2 linked regions of the Homo sapiens genome follow. Each later gene encodes a partner of the first gene's protein in a complex. Each region holds a gene or a part of one and is shown on either strand. Other genes may lie near its edges.

Region 1 (7,798 bases):
TAGGTTTGACTGATAAGACTCTAAACCAGGAAACAGCTCAAACTACCTGAATTGAAAAAAGAAGAAATAATTATGCGTTATAAGACAAATGAAATAAATGTATTATGGTATAACTGTTGTATTTATTAATTGCCACTGCCATACATAGGTCTAGTCTGTTCTCACCTTCTGTTTGCTTCCTACTGCTGGTGTTGGGCCATTTCCCATAAAATATTCCACCCCCCGATTTTCCTATGAGTTGTCACAGAGCCCAGTCATCAGGGTTTCATTCTCCACATTGTCACTCTGAGCATTTCAGGAAGCAAGAATGAGTCCAGTTGAATGAAGAATGTTGGGCTTTGGGGAGGAAGTGCAGCCTTAGCCCCCAGTGACATTGCAATGGAATTTATCAGTGAAGCCATTCTCCATCTGTCCAGAAACAAACAAGCAAGACTGTCTAAAAACCCACCAAGTGGTGCCGATGCTCTAAATCTCCCTTACTTTCCCTCATCACCAAAACATCCTTTTCCTAAGAGCATTTCAGTTTGGCTTTAGTAGCAGTTAGGTTAAAGAGTTCTACGCCAAGGCCTCATCTGAATGACTGATTTGTTTTTTAAGTCTACTAGCCTTGTTGGATTTCCAAGGGCTCTGGATGTGGAGATTTGGGGTCCGATGAATCTTTTCTTAAACCTTTCCCATCAATTTTCTAGCTCAGGAGTTGGCAAACTTTTTCTATAAAGTGCCAGACAGTATATGTTTTAGGCTTTGTGAGCCATATGATTTCTGTCACAACTACACTGTCATTTTAGCAAGAAGCAGCCATGGATGATGATACATAAACAAATGGCTACAGCCATGTTCCAACAAAACTTTGGTTATAAAAACAAGCTGTGGAGCAGATTGCTCACCCCTGTTCTAGCCCAAGGACAAAGGAATGTTGCTGATTTCTAGTTATTTCACTGTGGTGAAGGTCTTCAGCTCTAGGAAAGACAGAGGAAGGGATTCTGGGAGGTTGTAGCAGTGGAAAAAGTTCTTTTCTTCCTCTGATCGCCCTCTCAGCTCTTTCCTTCTGACTGAAAATCATCTTCAGCACCTCTCTTTTACCACCTCTGCCACCACCCACCCACTGCGAGTCCTATTGGCTATAGGTTGTATGCAGGCAGTAGTAGAGCTATCAAAGGATATTAAGAAAGGGAGTGATTATTAATAAATCATGTAATGTTTCTGATTTTAGCTCTTAAAAACAGTTCTTAAATTTGCTGTCCACACCCCCTCCATTTCTATCCCTGGTACTGCATCATGTTCAGGCTCATGGCTTTTACCTGGACAGCTGCAGTAGCATCTTAACTGGTTTCCATGACTCCATCTGTCTCAGAGAAGCCAGCCTGATTTGGGATTACAGTCATGAGCCACCGAGCCTGGCCCCTGATCTGTCTTAAATGCAGGTCTGACCAAGGCACTCTACCACCTACAATTTGTTTATACTGGAGATTCAAGTTCAAACTCCTGGGTTTCCCACACTGAGTCCCTGCATTGTTCACCAGCCTCATCTCCACCACTCTACTTCAAAAGTTAGGTTTCAGGAGGAGCAGATTGTTTTTGGTTTCTGGCCACATCATGCTGTTTCGTGCCACAGGACTCATGTTGTTCCCCTGCTTAGAAGGTTCTTCTTATTCTTTACAGATGACTAACGCATTAGGACTCAACTCTGCCATTGTCTCCAGGAAGTCACTGAACCCCCCCAGGTTGGGCCGCAGCCTGTTCTCCGAGTACCCAATCTGGGAGTTCAGGGTGGCTTTACTTACCTCTATCTTAATGCCAACCAGATGGGTATTGAAGTCACCTGTGTGTTTCCCTTTTAGAATTAATGTTGTTCCCCCAAACACCTATCATAACACCTGGCACAGTACAAGTATTCAGTAAATATTCATAAGCTGGATAAATGACCAGAGCCTCTGGATTGGGCCTTGTAGTCCTACTTTGCCACTTCGTGGGGTCAGGGAACAGGAGTGTGTCACTGTTCATTCAGTATGTAAATCCATTTCCAAGTCATGAGTGTCTGTTTTAAAACAAGGGAATGGGCTGGGCACAGTGGCTCCTGCCAGTAATCCCAGCACTTTGGGAGGCCGAGGTAGGCGGATCACTAGAGGCCAGGAGTTCAAGATCAGCCTGGCCAACATGGCCTAACCCTATCTCTACTAAAATACAAATATCAGCGTGGCATGGTGGCATACACCTGTAATGCTAGCTACTTGGGAGGCTGAGGCACGAGAATCGCATGAACCCGGGAGGCAGAGGTTGCAGTGAGCCGAGATTGTGCCACGGCACACCAGCCTGGGTGACAGAGTGAGACTCTGTCTCTAAATAAATACATAAATAAACAAGGGAATAGCGTCCCTCTCAACTGTGGCTTTCTAGTACTTCCAGAGCCTAGTGGTATAATTATCTGGGTTCTCTTAAGTTCGGACCCAAGGAAATTCAGGAGCATGACAGACATACTTTATTTTACTTTTGATTTGCTATATAAAAACAATACTACTCTAGTCCTTTTATTCATTGGCTGACTTCAGTAAATGTCACTGTTAACTTTTTTTGTTTTTTGTTTTGTTTGTTTTTTGCTTTTCAAGATGGAGTCTTGCTCTGTTGCCCAGGCTGGAGTGCAGTGGTGCGATCTCAGCTCAGCCTTCCATGTAGCCGGGACTACAGGCGCATGCCACTGCACCTGGCTAATTTTTGTATTTTTAGTAGAGACAGGTTTTCGCCATGTTAGCCAGGCTGGTCTCAAACTCTTGACCTCAAATGGACCACCTGCCTTGACCTCCCAAAGTGCTGAGATTACAGGTGTGAGCCACCACGCCCAGCCATTAACTTTATAAATTTTATTTTTCACTGTGCAACAGAATATGCCTATTTAGTCTTTATTTCAACTTTTTATTTATATAAATTATATTTTTATTTTATATATGTAATTTGGATTTATATTGATTTTTAATATAGATTGTTATTCTCAAGCTGCTTTTTAAAAATTCTTTATGCATTGATCATATAACCAAGCCAAGATCTAGCCTACAGGAAATTGTTAGTGATATTTTGAAAAATTTTGAGATTAAAGAGCAGGTTTTGAAAAATTAAGAATGTTAAAGAATGCATCAACATTTGTCATTTGATTTAACATATCTCCAAAATAACTGACTCCTGTTTTCTACTGTCTTAAAAACTAGGGTCAGTTGGATCTCTTAAGGAGCAATACGGGCCTTTTATATAGAATAAAGGACTCTCAGAATGCTGGGTAAGTACTTGTTTTTTTAATTTTAAGAAAATGTTTATTATTTGCAAACGTATGTGTTGGGAATAAAGCTAATACAAAATTACATAAACCTGTCCTGTGTATCATCCCTGCCTCCTATGATATATTCCATTTCCCAGAGGTAACTGCTCTTAATAATTTAGTGTATATCCTTTCTTCTAGCTATATATAAATACACATAGATGATTATATATTTATATATAATCTTTCTCTTTTTTTTTTAACAAAAATGGAATCATGCTATCCATTCTGTTTTGCAATTTGTTTTTTTCACTTACTGTATCTTGGACATCTTTTCATGTTGGTACACACAGCTCTGTCTCATTCTATTTAAGGTAAGCCTTTCTTTTGGTAAATATGTCACTGTGGTGACCTTGTCTGCTAATTTTGTTTAAGTAGTGATGTAGATTATTAGATTATCCTATAGTCCTTACCTTACTAATTTTACTTTATTCCACTACAGTAAAATGAAGGGATCCGATAACCAAGAAAAACTAGTATATCAAATCATAGAGGATGCAGGAAATAAAGGTAAGCATGTGAAAGATGAAGCAGAAAAAAACATTGTCTTTGGAACTAGATATAGGGACCCAGATCTCAGCTTCCCAGGGTAGAACTCAGTGGACAGAGTATACTGAGGAAGGTAATAGAACATACAAATATAACATGCATGTGCTTGAAGGACACCCAAGAGTAAGGCCGTTGTTGCCTTGAAAGAGACAAGAACTAAAGGGCTGTGTCCAGGGATGGAAAAAGACGTCTGAATTCTGAGTCACATGAATGTATTATCTATTCAAAATAAATAAAATTTAAGTTTTTTTTTTAAATCTGTACCTTCTAGCTATATGACCATGGACAAGTTACTTAAACTTTGTGAGCTTCAGTTTCTTTATCTTATCTATAAATTGTGGATGCTGACACCTCTCGTTTTTGCAAGGACCAAAAGGAAAGCTGGTGTGGTGTAGCAGTGTCTTAACAGATGTCCCTCCGCAGCTATAGTTTCTCTTCTACCCGCTTGAAGAACTGTATCTAAATTGCAATCCTAAGTTACAATAATTTGGGATCTATTTGAGTCATTGATATTAGCTGGAAAAATTGAGATGTAATCTGAAATTACATAACTAATTCTTATATTTATTAAAATTAACATTTTTAAAAATAGTCCTATGAGAAAGCCATTCTGCATATTTTTTTAATCTTCCTATCTCATATGCCATTACATTGGGAAGAAAATAAAGCAAAATATTTACATACATTCCCTTTCCATATATAACACTTATTTCCTTCTTTGAAAAAGAAATCATTGCTTCTCACACAGGGCTTTTAGCAGCCATAAGAACCCTAGGCTTCCTTTTCCATCTCACAAATACAATGTTGTATAAATAATGGATTACATGCATGCAGACACTCATCTAAAGAGTGTTTTTGTCCCACTTGAGGATGGCAGTTGACCTTGACCCAAATTTAAGTTTGTATTTCACATTTACAATCTAAAATGAAAGTATCAGAAAACAGAGATAAGGGTACAGATGATAAAATTCCATTGCATCCATGATTTTTCCTTCCATTATAAAAACGTCGTTTTCATAATTTTTTTTTTCTTTTTTTTGAGATGGAGTCTTGCTCTGTTGCCCAGGCTGGAGTGCAATGGTGTGATCTCGGCTCAGTGCAACCTCCGCCTCCCGGGTTCAAACGAGTCTCATGCCTCAGCCTCCCGAGTAGCTAGGACTACAGGTGCATGCCATCAGGCCCGGCTAATTATTTTTGTATTTTTAGTAGGGACAGAGTTTCACCATGTTGGCCAGGCTGGTCTCAAACTCCTGAGCTCAGGTGACCCACCTGCCTCGGCCTCCCTAAGTGCTGGGATTACAGGCATGAGCCACCATGCCCAGCCCTTTCCATAAGTTTTTTAAAAGTTTGCCACACTGGGATTCCAAGAAATTTCTAGTTAGAAATTATAAATCATTATAATAAGTCTTACAAAGCATTATACTTATTTATTGTTTAGCATACTTTTGCTACTTTAGCCAGCATTCTTTACTGTTAGCTTTATACTGCTAGCTTTGGAATGAGACACAAGTTAGAGGAATAACATTAAAAATCCATGAAAACCAGAGTTCAACTTATTTTACTTTACTTTCTTATAGGAATATGGAGCAGAGATATCCGCTATAAAAGTAATTTGCCATTAACAGAAATCAACAAAATTCTGAAGAATCTGGAAAGTAAAAAGCTTATCAAAGCTGTTAAGTCTGTAGCAGTGAGTAGTCCTTTCCTCAGATACCCACTTACATATGTTGCTTCAAGTTTTTATTCTTGAAGTTATGTCATGATTTAGAACAGCTGGTCAAAAAAGACTTAAAAATTTAGCTCATGTTGGATTGGTTTGGAGATGCTGCTTAGACTTGTCCCTACACAGTTAGCTCTTGGTGTCTCACTCACCCACTCAAAAATCTAAAACTACTTTACTGTCTTCAGTGAAGAATCTTTGGAACTGTGAACATTTTTCCTAGATTTTGTGGTGTGTAAGATAATTTACTTTATCCCGACATATTAGCTTTCTCATTCAACAAAGAGTGTTTGCTGTGTGCCAGACACTGTTTTGAGTGCTTGGGATACATTAATGAACAAGTCGTAGAAAGATCCCTGCCTTGGTGGAGCTTCTCTTCTAGTACACGTGTGTTTTTCCTGCTCCTCATCCTGCCCCACCCCTGCTCCAGAGCTGGCTCCCTCGGGGACATCTGCCCCTGACCTCACTGATTTAGACATCAGAGGAACTGAGATTCCCCTAGAATAAAGTTTGCTTCAATACACATTTCATAAGAATTACAGCTATAATTCAAATTTTATAATTTCAGAGCTGTTAGGTCTGTGGCAGTGAGTAGACCTTTCCTCAAATATCCGCTTACATATGTTGCTTCAAGTTTTTATTTTTGAATAAAACAAGAATTATAAGAATTATAACATCACTTATAAGAATTTGATGCTTATTAGTGATTTTATTTATCAGAATAGCATTTCCCTTCCACATTGTTTAATGGATAATTTCAAATATATACAAAGGTAGAAAAAATCATATAATAAAACCCTATCATGTAGCCTCATTTTGTCAGTCCTCCTTCTACATCTTTATGTTTAATAACAGCTCTGCTGAAATATAATTCATCATTCATACTACAGAATTCATTCAACCTTTTAAAGTGTAAAATCTTTGGATTTACAGTCACTGGTTTTTACTATAAGCTAAGAGTTGTGCAACCATCACCGCTGTTCTAATTTTAGAACATTTTCATCACCCCCAAATGTGGCCACTAGTATTTGTTTCCCAGCCTCTCTTTCCATAGGCCCTAAAAACGAATAATTTATTTTCTGCCTTTATTATAGATTTGCCTATTCTGGACAGTTCCTATAAATGGAATAATAGAATATGTAGTCTTTTATGTATGACTACTTTGACTTAGCATGATGTTTTCAAGATTTATCCATATTGTGCTTTATTCCTTCTTATTGCCAATTAAAATTCCATTGTATAGATGTATATCACCTTTTGTTCATTCATCCGTTGGTGAACTTCTGTGTCCTTTTAAGGGTTAAAATAATCTTAGATCTCAGTGTAAAGTGCAAAACTATAAAACTTTTTGAAGAAAACATAGAAAATCTACATGACCTTGGCTTTGTTAATGAATTCTTGGACTATAACTCCAATAGTAGTCTATGAAAGAAAATGTTAATAAGTTGGAGTTTATCAAAATTTTTTGAAAACCTCTGCTTTGCAAGACACATTAAGAGAATGAAAAGACAAGTTACATACTAAAAGATATTTGCAAATCACATATTTGATAAAGGACTTGTCTCCAAAATATACAAAGAACTCCTAAAATTCAGCAATAAGAAAACAACACTTTGGGAGGCCAAGGCGGGTGGATCACCTGAGGTCAGGAGTTCAAGTCTAGCCTCACCAACATGGTGAAACCCTGTCTCTACTAAAAATACAAAATTATCCAGGCGTGGTGGCACATGTCTGTAATCCCAGCTACTTGGGAGGCTGAGGCAGGAGAATTGCTTGAACCCAGGAGGCAGAGGTTGCAGTGAGCAAGATTGCACCATTGTACTCCAGCCTGGGCAACAAAAGCGAAACTCCATCTCAAAAAAAGAAAAAAAAAAAAAAACACACAATGAAAACAAATAATCCAACTAAAAATGAGCAAAAGATCTGAACCTCACCAAAGAAGACATACAGATGGCAGATAAGCATATGAAAAGATGCTCTACATTATTTTTCATTAGAGAACTGCAAATTAAAATAAAATTTAGTATAGTGAGATACCACTACACACCTATTAGAATAGCTAAAATCTAAAAATTGGTAATACCATATGCTGACAAGATACAGACCAAGATGAACACTCATACATTGCTAAGAATGCAAAATTTTCAGTCCTTTTGTTAAAAAACTGGGCAGTTTTTACAAAACTAAACAGAGTCTTACCACATTGTCCAAAGGTCAAGCTC
Region 2 (9,636 bases), on another chromosome or scaffold:
AATTGTCTGGGCTGGCTAGGTAGAGAATAACTCTGCAGGAGGATGACACTAGGTATCAGTGCAGAAATAAATTATCAACAGTACAGGCTAAAGAAAAAAGAAAAAAAGCAAAAACAGACTTACTGGATCATCTGCCAGCAGAGTGAGATACTGATCAAGAACTTGCTTAGAGATGTTATAGCCAACAGGTAGGGATCTGAAGATCTATGGAGCAAAGGACACTTAAAATGGGTTTGGGAACTTAGAACTCCTGACCTTACTGAAATAAAGATGTTTTAGGCCGGGCACAGTGGCTAAGGCCTGTAATCCGAACACTTTGGGAGGCTGAGGCAGGTGGATCACTTTGGGTCAAGAGTTGGAGACCAGCCTGACCAATATGGTGAAACCCCGTCTCTAGTAAAAATACAGAATTAGCTGGACGTGGTGGCGCATGCCTGTAATCCCAGCTATTTGGGAGGCTGAGGCAGGAGAACTGCTTGAACCTGGGAGGCAGAGGTTGCAGTGAGCCGAGATTGCGCCAATGGACTCCAGCCTGGGCTACAAGGGCGAAACTCCGTCTCAAAAAAAAAAAAAAAAAAGTTTTAATTTTAGTTACCACAAAACTGTCCAAAAATATTCACAGCAGGATTGTTTGTAAGAGTAAAAAACTAGAAACACCCAAATGACCAGTACCGAGTACACTAAAATAAAATATAGCACGGCCATTAAGTGGAATATGATACAGTCATTATGAAGAGTGAGACAAATCTACAGAAACTAACATGAAAGGAAGTTTTACATACACTGTCATATAAAAAATCAAGTTATAGAACAGTATGACTAGGTTGGGTGTGGTGGATCACGACTTTGTAATGCCAGCACTTTGAGAGGCTGAGGTGGGAGGATCACTTGATGTCAGGAGTTCGAGACCAGCCTGGCCAACACAGTGAAACCCTGTCTCTACTAAAAATACAAAAATTAGCCTGGCGTGGTGGCATGTGCCTGTGATCTCAGCTACTCGGAAGGATGAGCAGGAGAATGCCTTGAACCCAGGAGGCGGAGGTTGCAGTGAGCTGAGATTGCGCTACTGCACTCCAGCCTGGGTGAAAGAGTACAAGACTCTGTCACAAAAAAACAAAAACAAACAAACAAAACCCAACCAAAAAGCCATATGAATAGTCCCATTTTGGGGTTAAAAAATACATATACCCACATATATGTTAGAGTATGCAAGGTCTGAATAAAGATATATACCAAACTTTTTTTTTTTTTTTGAGACAGAGTCTCACTCTGTTTCCCAGGCTAGAGTGCAGTGGTGCGATCTCAGCTCACTGCAACCTCCCATTCCCGGGTTCAAGCGATTCTCCTGCCTCAGCCTCCCAAGTAGCTGGGATTACAGGCGCCCATCACCATGCCTGGCTAATTTCTGTAATTTTAGTAGAGATGAGGTTTCACCATGTTGGACTATGCTGGTCTTGAACTCCTCAGGTGATCTGCCTGCCTCGGCCACCCAAAGTACTGGGATTACGGGTGTGAGCTGCTGCGTCCGGCCTTTTTTTTTTTTTTTTTTTTTTGAAATAGGGTTTTGCTCTGTTGTTTAAGCTGGAGTGCAGTGGCATGATCATAGTTGACTGCAACCTCAACTCTTGGGCTCAAGCAATCCTCCTGCCTCAGCCTCTCGAATAGCTGTGACTACAGGCATATGGCACCACACCCAACTAATTTTTTAAAAAAATTTTTTGTAGAGACGGGGGTCTTGTCATGTTGCCCAGGTTGGTCTTCAACTCCTGGCCTCAAGGGATCCTTCTGCCTCAACCTCCCAAAGTTCTAGGATTACAAGTGTGAGTCACTGCACCTGGCCATAGAACTTTAAAATAAACAATATAAAAATATAGGAATATTTAAACACAGTCATGCACCATATAACATTTTAGTCAACAACGGACCGTGTGCAGCTGTGGTCCCATATTATACTGGAGCTGAAAAATTCCTACTGCTTTGTGATGTCATAGCTGTTGTAACATCATAGCACAATGCCGTTGTGAAACACATTACTCACATGTGTGGTGAGGCTGGAGTGCAGTGGTATGATCTTGGCTCACTGCAACCTCTGCCTCCTGGGTTCAAGCAATTCTCCTGCCTCAGCCTCCCGAGTAGCTGGGACCACAGGCGCATGCCACCATGCCCGGCTAATTTTTTTTTTTTTTTTTGTATTTTAGTAGATGGGTTTCACCATGTTGCCCAGGCTGGTCTCAAACGCCTGAGCTCAGGCAACCCACCAGCCTGGGCCTCCCAAAGTGCTAGGATTACAGGCGTGAGCCACCCCGCTCAGCCTGTTACTGGTTTTTAATAAATACAGTGTAGCCTGAGCGTGTAGACCATCACATTCACATTAATCTGCCATTCATTCACTAACTCCCACAGGGCAACTTTTAGTCCTGAAAGCTCCATTCATGTTAAGTGCACTAAACAGGTGTGGTTTTTAATTTTTCATACCATATTTTTACTGTACCTTTTCTGTGATTAGATGTTTAGATACACAGATGCTACTGCGTTACAACTGCCTACAGTATTCAGTACAGTAACATGCTGTACAGGTTTACAGCCTAGAAGCCATAGGCTATCCCGTTCAGTCTAGGTGTGCTGTAGGGCTACACCATCTAGGTTTGTGTTAAGTACACCCTATGATGTTCACACAATGATGAAATCACCTAACGACACATTTCTCAGAATGTATCCCTGCTGTTAAGTGATGCATGACTGTATTACTATGAAAGTAATATAAATAACACATATTGGATATATTAAATATCGATATTTTAAGTACAGGGGGTCAAATAATGTCCTGAATGCCAAGGCTCTCAGAGTCCAAATTGTGGATTCTTAAAATAATTAGGAATAGGCTGTACTTGACGAATAGATACTTTGACTAAGTGAATAGTGTAGATTTTTAAAAGCTGGATCCTAAGAGACCAAACATTTCAGTGCTCATCACTTGAAGATAATCCCTGCTCCACATCAAATGCCCTTCTCTTTCAAGGCTCAGACCTCAACCCAAACTCAGGATCTGTGTATAATAAACGTTGATAACACCCAAGAATCTGTCAGAAAGTTAGTGCAAGAACATGAAACTCACCTCATTGGAAGACAATGGCTGGGTGAAGGGAGCACTAGAGGAAGTGGTAATCTCACTCATTCGGAGCATGGTTCGCACAATCTCGCTGCTTGTCTGTTTGAAAAGTAAACTAGAATTCAGAAATCACAGTGCTGCCCCTGGCTCTATGTGCCAATGGCCATATCTGACAAATAAGTAAATGTCCCTGATGACCAATGACAGACCCACTTAGGTATTACCTGGTCCATCCTGTTAGCAACTGCGCTCACAATGGCTTGGTCACGGAAGTGTTGGTGGAATCTGTCAAGGTTGGCCTGCCAATAAATCCCATCATCTGGAATGGGCTGAGGAAAAGATTTAGAGAAACATTTAGCTATAGTGTAAAGTTTTCTGGTGAGGAGCTTGGATTTAATGGTTCACCATTTCTTTTCCTACACAGTAACAATTACATTGGTTGGAAAAAAATCATTCAGTCATGTAGACTGGTGTCTAGACAAATTCCGACTTCAAACAGGTTTTCTAAGCTCATCTCCAATCTTTCTCTCCCTATTTTATTATTTAACATTTATTTTAATTTTTTTCTGAGACGGAGTTTTGCTCGTCACCCAGGCTGGAGTGCAGTGGCATGATCTCGGCTCACTGCAACCTCTGCCTCTCGGGTTCAAGTGATTCTCCTGTCTCAGCCTACTGAGTAGTTGGGATTACAGGCAACCACCACTGCGCTAGGCTAATTTTTGTATTTTTAGTAGAGTTGGGGTTTTACAATGTTGGCCAGGCTGGTCTCGAACTCCTGACCTCAGGTGATCTGCCTGCCTCGGACTCCAAGTGCTGGGATTATAGGTGTGAGCCACCACATCCGGCCTTTCTCTCTCTATTTTAACTCTTCTCCATTACTTTCAAGTCTCCAACTTGACCCTTCTTCCTTCTCACTCTCGGCAGATGACTTTGCCTCTCATTTCACAGAGAAAATAGAAGACACTAGGCCAGAACTCACTCAGCTCTGTGCACATCCTCACCACATTTCTTTTTTGTTCTTGATTCATATTTTCACTCACTTTTATCACAGCTGAAAAATGCTCCTTTTACCTAAGGTTAATGCCCATATTGGTATTCCAAATCTTACTCTCTCATTCATTCTTGGGGATCCAGCTCTATTTTACCCTGTCCTCTAACATCTTCAGGCTTTCCTTCTCTACCGCCTTCTTATCAGCCTTTACCCTGTCCAAGTCTCTTTCTACTCTAGAATTCTCTTTCAACCCTATGCCTTCTCTTCTTTTCCTTAGTGTCACAGCCAAGCTTCTCAAACAGTTGGCCATCTCAGTTGTATCTCTACCTAGATTTACGCAACCCATTTCCACTATTGTACTGAAATGTCAATTGTCACTCGCATTCCAGTGAAATTCCACAACTGTCCTTAAGGATTCTATGTTGTTAAGTTCAAATAATAATTTCCACTTCTGATCTTATTTAACCTTTTGGAAGCATATGACATGGTTGGACATTTTTTCCTTCTTAAAACTTTATGTGGCTCCTTGGTTTTATGACACCATTTTTTTTTTCCTTTTAAAGACAGGGTCTTTGTCACCCAGGCTGGAGTGCAGTGGTGTGATTGTAGCTCACTGCAGCCTTGACCTCCCTGGGCTCAGGTGATCCTCTCATCTCAGCCTCCCAAGCAGCTGGGACCACAGGTGCGTGCCACCACGCTTGGGTAATTTTTGTATTTTTCTGTAGAGACGGTCTCACCATGTTGCTCAGGATGGTCTCAAATTCCTAGGCTCAAGCGATCTGCCCGCCTTGGCCTTCCAAAGTGTTAGGATTACAAGTGTGAGCCACTGGGCCTGGCCGACACCATTTTTTCTTGGCGTTACTTTGAACCTTTCTGGCTACCTTTCCTCAGTATCCACAGATTCCTCTTTCAGATCCCAACTGTAATCCTGGTGTTTTGTCAGGGTTCTGTCCATACCTTTCCTTTCTTTTTACTCTACATGCTCTACTTGGGTAATTTTATCTGCTCTCCAGGCTTCAACTATTGATGCATTTCCAAATCTGTTACTCTATCCTAGAACTCTCTCTTTTTTTTTTTTTTTTTGAGATGGAGTTTTGCTCTTTCGCCCAGGCTGGAGTGAAGTGGCACAATCTCCGCTCACTGCAACCTCTGCCCCCCAGGTTCAAGCGATTCTCCTGCCTCAGCTTCCCAAGTAGCTGGGATTACAGGCCTGCGCCACCATGCATGGCTAATTTTTGTATTTTTAGTAGAGACGGGGTTTCGCCATCTTGGCCAGGCTGGTCTCGAACTCCTGACCTCAGGTGATCCACCTGCCTCTGCCTCCCAAAGTGCTAGGATTACAGGCATTACCGCACCCGGCCTATCCTGGAACTCTCTATTATGCTCCAGATGCATAGACTCAGCTGCCTATTTGACACTTCCATTTGTTCCCCAAACTGTTCTGTTTTGTAAGTTTTCAGGTAACTACACTATAACCAACCCAATTTTTTTTTTTTTTTGAGACAGGGTCTTGCTCTGTTGCCCAGGCTGTAGTGCAGTGGCACCATCATGGCTCACTGAAGCCTTGACTTCCTGGGCTCAAGTGATCCTCCCACCTCAGCCCCTGAGTAGCTGGGACTACAAACATGTGCCACCAGGTCTGGTGTTTTTTTTTTTGGTACAGATGGGGTCTCACTATGTTGTCCAGGCTGGTCTCAAACTCCTGGGCTCAAGTGATTCTTCTACGTCAGCCTCCCAAAATGCTGGGATTACAGGCACGAGCCACTGTGCCTAGACAACCCAATTTCTTTTTTTTTTTTGAGATGGAGTCTTGCTCTGTCACCAAGGATGGAGTGCAGTGGCGTGATCTCAGCTCACTGCAACCCCTGCCTCCCAGGTTCAGGCCATTATCCTGCCGCAGCCTCCCAAGTAGCTGTAATTACAGGCACCTACCACCATGGCCGGTTAATTTTTGTATTTTTAGTAGAGACGGGGTTTCACCATGTTGACCAGGCTCATCTCGAACTCTGACCTCAGGTGATCCACCTACCTCGGCCTCCCAAAGTGCTGGGATTACAGGTGTGAGCCACTGTGCTTGGCCAGCCAACCCGATTTCTTAAGCTACAAACTTGGGTATCACCCCTAGTCCCTTGCTCTCCATAATCTACCACCCCATTACCAAGTTCTATCTATTCTTTATATTTATCAGATGTCTACTTTTCTTTCTCCTATCATTACCTTATTTCAGACTCTAAATCTTGGCCCATCTGGATTACTACAATAGCCTCCTAACTGGGTTTTTTTTTTTCCCTTTAAAACATAGCAGACACTATAAAAGGAGTAACTGGGTTTTCTCCTTCTAATTTTGTTTTGCATCATTCTTCCCATTTCTTAGAGTAGTGCTTTTTTTTTTTTTAAACTGTTTTGGGTCACAGTTCCTTTGAAGAATGTAATGAAAGGTACGGAGAGCTTCACTGAAAAATGCACGTAAGTATAACTGGACTCTCTGAAATCCATCCATGGAGTAGAACAAGTTAGGAACTGCTGTGCTATAATAATCTTTCTAAAATATAAATCCAGTCACTTCATTTCCCTGCTTAAAATCCATCAATGGCTCTCCTTTGCCTTCAGGATAAAGCCCAAACCTCTTAGACAAACATGTACACAAATAATAAATAATTCCAGTTATAAATATAAATGCTGTGAAGTATATGAAATGAGAAATGTGGTAGGAACTAGTGTAGGAGTGGGCAATGGTGCTTGAAGTCTATGAAAACAGCATTTAAGATAGAAATGATAAAAACAGAGACCACTACATGAAGATCTGGGGACAAACATTTGAAGCCGGAGCCAAAGTCTAAAGACCAGAAAGAGTTTGACATGTTTAAGAGATAAAGTCAGTAGAGGGAACACAGTGAGTAAGATGGAGACGGGGCAGAGGTGAGGTTGAAGAGCCCTGTCTCCAGCAGATCATACGAAGACCTAGATCACGTAAGGCTTCCTAGCCCGTACCTTGGATTTCTTCTAAAAGTAAAGGAAAGCTATTAAAGGAGTCTAATCAGTGGATGTGTTGTTTTGTTTTGAACAACTTAGAAAGTCATTTTGGCTACTAAGTAGGTAAGAATGCAGCTAGGGAGACCATTAACGAAAGCGTTTGCAAAGAGTTGAGAGATGGCAGTGAAAAGATGAGAAATGGTTGGATTTGAGGTAATTTTGGAAACTGGGCTGATATGTTTTACTGTGAGATTAGAGGGTTCCAAGGATTTTGGCTTAAGCAGAAATGGTGGTGTCCTAGGCGGCTGGCCTACGTGGTAGTGTCTTTTACTAAGATGAGGAAGTTTATGAGGGAGCAAGATATTTGGGAGGAGGAATCAATTATTCTGTTTTGGCCACACTAAATTTGAGATGCTTACTGACATCTTTATAGGTACGCTAAGAAGGCATTTGAATATGAGTTCAGGCCTATGTATAGTTTTTAGACCCATTTTTCATCACTGGCCCCTGTAGGTCTTTAGGTTCTCGCCATATTGAGCAACCTAAACTTTTTCTAGGCCCCTTTTTACATAAGCTGTTACCTCTGTTCAATGAAAGAATTAAGTTAAGGCTCAGAAGGGAGACAGTAATGGTTCATTCTTTGTTAGTCTATTCCTAATATTTAATGAGGTTCATAATCCTACTGCTTCTTAGCTCAGGAAGCTTTAAGCTCTCTTGGGGCTTGTTATCTGAGTGCTCTTTCTGGCCTGCTTCAGGGTGAGGACTTCTAATCAAGAAGCCCCATTACCTCCTTGTTATCTGTAGTATATTTTGGTCTCTTGGCCTTGGGCTCCCCAGCAGCATCTTCATCAGATGATCTCCTCCTTTTACCTTTCCCTGCCAAACAAACAATTAAACACTTAGACTATATCTCATATGATGACAGGAAATGACCAAACATGAGAGCAGGTGTCTTTCATTCCAAAGACATCTGTAGCTGCCTCTAGATCAGAGTTGCTTAGGGGGCTGAAGAGCTATAAGAAACTCAAGTAACTGATGAAATAATCTGAAACTCAACATGTTCAAAAAGAGTCTTATAGTCTTTCTCCTCCAATGCTCTCTTTCATGGCCAGTGATATCATCCTCCCACATGTGCAAGTCAGACACACAGATGTCACTCTTAGTACTTGTTTCCTTCACCCTCTCTCTTTCATTTTCCACCAGTCTGTCAACATTTACCTTTGCCCCATTCTCCCATCCTTTCTGTAGACAAAAAATCTTTTGAAAGTGCAAATTAGATCATGTCATTTCCTTAAAAATCCTTCAGTGGTCTTCCTTTGCTCTTAGCATAAAGAACAGATGCTCTATAAGGTCTTACTTGATTCAGCCCCTGCCTGTCTCCCATCCAAGTACTAAGCAGGTTGATCCTGATTAGCTTCTGAGATCAGACCCCTGCCTAGCTATGTCTCTAACCTTACCTCATGCCTCTCTTGCTTTGCTTACAATGCTTTAGCTATACTGACATTCTTTCATTTCCTCAAATGCTATTTTTTTACTACATACTATTCCCTCTGCCAAAAATGCTTTTCCTGTTACCTCACTGTTAGCTTCTACTTCAAATCTTAGCTCAAATGCCACCTTCTCAAAGAAACATGAGGCCTAAACTCCCAGATGAATCCCGTCTCTCGTTATATATTTTCTTTTCTTTTTTTTTTCCCGAGACAGAGTCTCACTCTGTCACCCAGGCTGGAGTACAGTGGTGCAATCTTGGCTCACTGCAATCGCTGTCTCCTGGGTTCAAGCAATTCTCCTGCCCCAGCCTCCCGAGTAGCTGGGATTACAGGCGTATGCCACCATACCTGGCTATTTTTTTTTTTTTTTTTTTTTGAGACGGAGTCTGGCTCTGTTGCCCAGGCTGGAGTGCAGTGGCACGATCTCGGCTCACTGCAACCTCCGCTTCCCGGGTTCATGCTATTTTCCTGCCTCAGCCTCCCAAGTAGCTGGGACTACAGATGCCCGCCACCACACCCAGCTAATTTTTTGTATTTTTAGTATAGACGGGGTTTCCCGGTATTAGCCAGGATGGTCTCGATCTCCTGACCTCGTGATCCGCCCACCTTGGCCTCCCAAAGTGCTGGGATTACAGGCGTGAACCACCATGCCCGGCTACCTGGCTAATTTTTATAATTTTAGTAGAGATGGGGTTTCAACATGTTGCCCAGGCTGGTCTCGAACTCCTGGCCTCATGCAATTCGCCTGCCTCAGTCTCCCAAAGTCTCCATTATATATTTTCATAACACCTCATACTTTTCCTTCATGGCACTTATTACAGTTTAATTATATACTGATGTGATTTTCTGATTAATGCATGTCTCATAATACTATGACAGTTCCTTCATAGGAATATTTCCTTCATAGTACTTATCACCGTTTAATGATATATCGATGTGATTTTCCGATTAATGTATGTCTCCTATACTAAAGCCCCATGGCAGAGACCATGATTTTTTCATTGTTATACACCACGATGTCTGGCACATAGCAAATACTTGGTAAATACAATCACATTTCATACACTTGACAA

What was found.
Region 2: POLR3F (region 1) and POLR3C share a complex: the UniProt entries of both Homo sapiens proteins name them as parts of the RNA polymerase III complex.

Annotation. Positions count from the first base shown.
Region 1 is NC_000020.11:18,469,642-18,477,439, forward strand, and holds part of POLR3F (DNA-directed RNA polymerase III subunit RPC6), read left to right. Parts: intron 1-973; exon of another isoform or gene 974-1,050; intron 1,051-1,662; exon of another isoform or gene 1,663-1,724; intron 1,725-3,200; coding exon 3,201-3,268; intron 3,269-3,749; coding exon 3,750-3,817; intron 3,818-5,433; coding exon 5,434-5,546; intron 5,547-7,798. UniProt on the Homo sapiens protein: DNA-dependent RNA polymerase catalyzes the transcription of DNA into RNA using the four ribonucleoside triphosphates as substrates.
Region 2 is NC_000001.11:145,827,062-145,836,697, reverse strand, and holds part of POLR3C (DNA-directed RNA polymerase III subunit RPC3), read right to left. Parts: intron 7,950-9,636; coding exon 7,861-7,949; intron 3,439-7,860; coding exon 3,334-3,438; intron 3,225-3,333; exon of another isoform or gene 3,209-3,224; coding exon 3,116-3,208; intron 205-3,115; coding exon 124-204; intron 1-123. UniProt on the Homo sapiens protein: DNA-dependent RNA polymerase catalyzes the transcription of DNA into RNA using the four ribonucleoside triphosphates as substrates.